2 separate regions of the Homo sapiens genome follow, and region 1 is linked to region 2. Evidence: fine-mapped expression QTL. Tissue or cell type: whole blood. Region 2 holds a variant in brackets; the other region holds the start of a gene. All regions are shown on one strand. Distances are from middle to middle. Region 1 holds the start of BATF (basic leucine zipper ATF-like transcription factor). Region 2 has its middle 20 kb from the start of BATF.

What was found.
Region 1: BATF starts here. The variant in region 2 is fine-mapped to the expression of BATF in whole blood (TOPMed, PIP 0.96).

The regions. Positions count from the first base shown.
Region 1 is chr14:75,521,158-75,524,070 of GRCh38, reverse strand. It overlaps BATF (basic leucine zipper ATF-like transcription factor), which reads right to left and starts at 1,602. Exons shown (of 3, transcript NM_006399.5): 1 at 1,326-1,602. The coding sequence starts at 1,388. RefSeq lists an enhancer at 1,305-1,634.
Region 2 is chr14:75,500,909-75,503,821 of GRCh38, reverse strand. No RefSeq gene overlaps it. Among named protein-coding and RNA genes, the nearest start is that of BATF, 20 kb to the left of the region's middle. The variant T/C (reference allele first, on the strand shown) is at 1,557.

The DNA of each region.
Region 1 (2,913 bases), 20 kb before region 2:
TCTGGGATCACTAAGTACTGGGCTCACCAACATGTCCAATACTTTCAGGCCTTTGTGGTAGGAGGTCATTGGCATAGATAGGAAGGAAGTGCTCTTCCTCTAAGGGGGATGGGGCACCAGGTTACCATGGAAGCCATGAGTAATTTCCTTCCTAAGAAAAGTACAAACTTCCAGGCAGTCAGAGCCACTCTGACACCATCTTGAGCAGCAGACTGGATTCTGTGCCTTCTAGAGGTCTCCACCCAGACTCATCCCAGCCTGCTGCTCCGTTATTAGAGGCTTAGGATATACGCCCTGTTCAATATTTATATACTTTTATTTTGGCTGCAGCATTTTGAAAACCCTTGTGGATATCTGTGCTAAGGAAAGAATGAAGTTTTTAAACTATGAAGGTTGAGAAAATTTTAACCCACGGATACATGTCGGATGAGAAAGAGGAGGGCTTCCTACAGCAAGGGATGTCAAGAGTGTGGTGCAGAACAAAACCCTAGAAGCTGTGAGATGGGCAGGGCACTCCTTTTTTGGTAATCCTCAAGCTAAAACCTTTGGACTTGGAAGTCACAATCTAGACTCCAAATGCTCCCACAATCCCTATCTCAGTCTCTCTGGTTTCCCCAGAGCTAAGATGAACTACCAGCAAATGTCTTCCAACAAATTTCCAGAGCCACCTCCTCATTCATTTCCTTGCTCCTATCCAGAAGCCACAAGCAAAGAGATATTGGCTGGACCTCTAGCATCTCCCCTTGCTGGCTGTGCTAGCAACAGAGGCAGTGCCCCAGTAGAGAGATCCTTCTATGCTAGCCTGGGTTTCTCCTCCTCCTCCTCCTTCTTCCTCTTCTTCTTCTTCTTTTTTTTTTTTTTTAACTTTTCCCTAACCCCTTTTCTCCCCTTCCCTATTGGCTGTCTCCTGGGAAACTGCATATCTAGGATTTGAGCTGTGCATGCCAGCGGCCCACTTGAAAACTCCTCTCACTTTTCTACAGCCTTGGAGAACAGTAGACTCTTTTCTCTGCATTCTTTGATGTTCATCCTCCTCTTTGCTTCCTAGAAAGCTTTTTAGGGTGGCAACCCCAGTGAGGCAGAGGTGATAGGCAGCCTTGGAAAATGGAGAGAAAAAGGGGCTTTGGCAGAATGGGTGGAAGGATGAGGATCTCTGCCAATATGCACAGCTTAGTAGCAAATTCCATGTCCTAAGTCTAACAGAGTGCCCGTGCAACGAGCCACTTCCTCCATCCTCAGCTCCCTGGGCAGGACAAGGAAGCCTGGCTCTCTTTCCATCCCCCAGGAGAATCAGAAGGTAGGAGAGAGAAAAAGGAGGACTCTACCTGTTTGCCAGGGGGAGGAGAGCGGCTGAAGCTGGAGTCACTGCTGTCGGAGCTGTGAGGCATGGCTGAAATCTTCCGGGCTCTCACACTCAGCCCCAGGCACCTCTGGGCTCTCTTGTCACCAGCTGGGCTCCCTTCCTGACTTCTCCTGGGCCACCAGCCCACCACCCCCTACAGGTGCCTCCTCTGCCTGCCCTGTAGCCACCTCTGACCCCTGCGTCCTCCTCACTCTGGGGTGCAGAGGGACTGCTCCCCAAAGGGACATGTCGCTCGCTTTGGGGCTTGCACGCTCTCTCTCTCTCTTGTGGTTTCTGGTAACTCACGCTGGAAGTCACATGGGCGGAAACTTCAGCGAGTTAGAAGTTAGAGAGAAAAATACATATCTGGGAAAAGACCTACAGAATTATGTGAAAGAAAAAAAAATACAGATACCTTCCGACAGTTTGAAAGACACAGCAGCCCTCTTCAATTGATGAAGATAAAAGAGAAAAACAGCCCAGGCAGGGAAAAACCCCAGCCAGAATTAGCAAGTCCGTCTTCTGTCAACATGGGCAGAGAGGAGAGGACAACCAGGAAAATGTTTCCATTGTCATACGACTTGATTTTTAAACCAAAATAAAGCAAAAACACTGGGATTTCTTTCTGGTTTTCAGCCGAAAGCAGCTGCTCACCCATCTTGTCTTTCCTCACCCCTTAAGTCCAGCCAGCCTCGGGGTGGTCTGGAGATAAGACGATCCAAGGGTATTCTCCTTTCCTGACCATCAAACACAAGGGCTGTGGGAGATCAGAAAGCCACAAGGGAGGTTCTAGAATTGCTGCTCTGAAAGCCTATTAAGCGCCTGTGCTGCTTGGCAGGGAGCTCACACTCTTTAGAGAAAAGATGCCTTCCATATTGAGCAGCTCAAGACAGGCCCTGAATCTTTATGATTCAAGGTCACCTGGTCAGAACCCAGAATGCAGAAACAGTTAAAAAAAAAAAAGAAAGAAAGAAAGAAAGAAAAAGTGAAACAAATACTACACTTGGAGTCAGACCAACCAAGATTTAAATTCTGGTTCTACCACTTTGTATGTCTGTGGCCCTGGGTAGCTCACTTGAGCTATGTGACCTTCATTATCTTCATCTGTAAACAGAGGATGATAAAACCTGCCCTGCCTACCTCTTAGGAATGTGGCACAAAGCAAATGACAACGCGGATTAGAATGCCCCGCAGACTCTGAAGTAAATGACCGAGAGGGTAAGTGTAGGGTATTCCCAGCCTTGCCATGAGCGCATTTGTAGGGTTCTCAGTGATCAATTCAACCCTCACCTGGGCATCGTGGCTTTTTCAAAAGGCCTTACCTTATTCCCAGTATGGCTCGAAGCCAAACATTTGCCTTATTAAATTTTAGGATTGACAGGAAGTTACGGCTCCTAGAGGATTTTTGTATCCATGAGCTGAATTTCTAGACTAAGACAATATTGCCCTAAGGTTAAATTAAGTAAGACAAAATTCCTTTCCTATGGAGGAAAATAAAGCAGGGTTGGAGGTTAGGGAATTCTGGGTGGTCAGAAGGGCCTTGCCCAAAGAGGGGATACCTGAGCAGAGAT
Region 2 (2,913 bases):
GATATATCTGGAAGGATACAAGATTATTATTCCTCTCTCATTCTACTGGTAGGGATAGCTTTTTTGGATCCACGTAGATACATGGTAGGATTAAGAAGTTAAGGACTGGCTGGGCATGGTGGCTCATGCCTGTAATCCCAGCACTTTGGGAGGCAAAGGCGGGTGGATTGCTTGAGCTCAGGAGTTTGAGACCAGCCTGGGCAATATGGCAAAACCCTATCTCTCCAAAAAGAAAGAAAAGAAAACACAAGAAAAGAAAAGAAAAGAAAAGAAAAGAAAAGAAAAAAAAGTTAGCTGGGAGTGGTGGTGTGCACCAGTAGTCCCAGCTACTCTGGAGGCTGAAGTGGGAGGATCACTCAAGCCTGGGAGGCAGAAGTTGCAGTGTGCTGAGATCCTGCCACTGCACAATAGAGACTCTGTCTGAAAAAAAAAAAAAAAAGTTAAGGCCTGAGAAAATAGATGCACCAGTGGGCTTTCTAATTCCATTATTATCTAAAGATTACTCTTAAAACCCCCTCACATCTCTAATCCAAGACAGACTACTAAGCTCGTGTGCTTCACGTGCCATTGAGATGACAGAGAAGACATGCAGAGAGAAACAGATTCATAACAAAGCTTAATAATGGGAGGGAGAAATGTGAGCAGGTCAGGAGACAGCCTGAATAATTTCTGGGTAAGAGAAAATGAAAGAACCATCGTGAGAGAGAAACCATGGTGGAAAGAGCCTTGGCTAAAACTAGTAACGTGCAAGTGCCAAGACTGGAGTAGAAAACGGAGCAGAAATGAAGGTGGGCATCAGGGTACTGCCTCAAGTTGCACCATCCAACATGATAGCCACTAGCTACATGTGGGTATTGAGCCCTTGAATGTGGCCAATTAGTTCTATTAGAAGCAGAACTAATCAATTTTATTTTTATTTATTTATTTATTTACTGAGCCAGAGTCTCGCTCTATCACCCAGGCTGGAGTGTAGTGGTGAGATCTCGACTCACTGCAACCTCCGCCTCCCGGTTCAAGCGATTCTTCTGCCTCAGCCTCCAAAATGGCTGGGATTATAGGTGCCTGCCACCAGGCCCGGCTAATTTTTATATATTTATTAGAGACAGGGTTTCACCATGTTGGCCAGGCTGGTCTTGAATTCCTGACCTCAAGTGACCCACCCGCCTCAGCCTCCCAAAGTGCTGGGATTACGGGTGTGAGCCACTGCGCCTGGCCAGAACGAATTAATTTCAGATGCGCACTGAAGTATTTAAGAGTGATGTGTCATGTTATCTACAAGTTATATATAGATAGTATCTTAGATGATATTATTAAATTATTGTTAAATTCCTTAGGTGTGATAATGACATTGTGGTTATGTCCTTGTCTTTAGGAGATGTACACTGAAGTACTTAAGACTGATAGGTCATGTTCTCTACAAGTTATTTTCTAATGGCTTACAAAGAAATATGTAAGAGTGTGTGTGTGTGTGTGTGTGTGTGTGTGTGTGTGTGTTTGTGTTTAAAACTGGTGAACCTATTACAGAATGGAGGCTCACTGTTCTAGTATAGCAACTT[T/C]TTGATTGATTTGCTTTTTTCCCCAAAAATTTTTAAAAATGGGTGATAAAATGCTACATGATCATAGTAGGAAAAGTTTATGTTATTTTGTCACCAAGATGAAACAAAGGTGACTCCAGTAAAAATCTATATAGAAAGTTGTAATTTGAAAAAGAAGCAAACCAAAATGTAATACAATTTTATGCAATTGGTAGATTGTAACAATAAAAAAAATCCATTTGACATTTGATCTTGCAACAGTTCCCTTTAGGCGGCTCAGTTTGAATAGCATAGGATTACATTTGCTTGTCTGCAGGTCAAACCTCACTATTTAGATTGTCACTAAAGAATACACAATAAAATTATTGTAATTACTGTCTTCTGTTTTCAATTCTTAGGAACAATCTTTGAATAAAGCATGGAAGACTAAGTTATAGTAAAGTAATATAATAAAGTCATGGTAGAATAAAAAATGACAATGTTATTTATAGTGGTGTTTCTTCCGGTTTTAATTTTATTATTATATTTTCTTGTTTGTATGTTTGAAATATTTCACAGTAAAAAAAATTAAAAGTAATTGTTTATTAGCTGACCATAATCAGAAATAGAAATAGGAGATACAGAGAAGGTATTTATAAGTTCCCCAGAGAACAGACTCTGAGACTCTAAGACTTGGGTATAGGGAGGTTGTTGGAGAGTGTTCTCAGAAACATCACCTGTGAGAGTTGAGGGAGCCAAGACCAGGCAGGGGAGGAGTGAGTAGATACAAGGCCCCAGTCAATGCTGCAAGAAGTTTGGGAGGAGGCAGATGGCTCTTCAAAGTTGCTCCATTGAGGCCAATAGGCTGGCTACACCATTATAACACATAACCCATACTGACCAGTCACTGGATATGGGCTGCCCTCTGGGAGGTGGCATAATCTCTCACATAATCTCCAGGTAACTCCCTTCAGCCAAAAGCAATTCTTGGAGAGGGACTCAGCTGAGACCTCTTAGCTGCCAGCACTCCCCAAAGTTGGGGAATCAAGGCCTTGGTCCTGAAAGGGATCTGGGCAGCACGCCACACCACAGTGTCCATTACAAGGCAGAAGGAAGTCTGCCTTGTGTATTTTCCTGAACTTACACTTTGTAAGTTAGACATACTGTAAAAGGTGACGGGCCAAGAAATTGAGATGTAAGTATATTATTTAAAGTTATAAAGATTCCGATAGACTTAATATAAAAATAAAAATTGGGAGGGAGAACATGCGGTGAAATATAACTGAGTTAAATTCCTCAATATTCAAAGTATAAAGGAGTTTTCAAACAATCTTTAAAGTAGATAAACTAAGAGAGAGAAGTATAAACATATTTTAGAATTCTGCCTATAACCACAGGA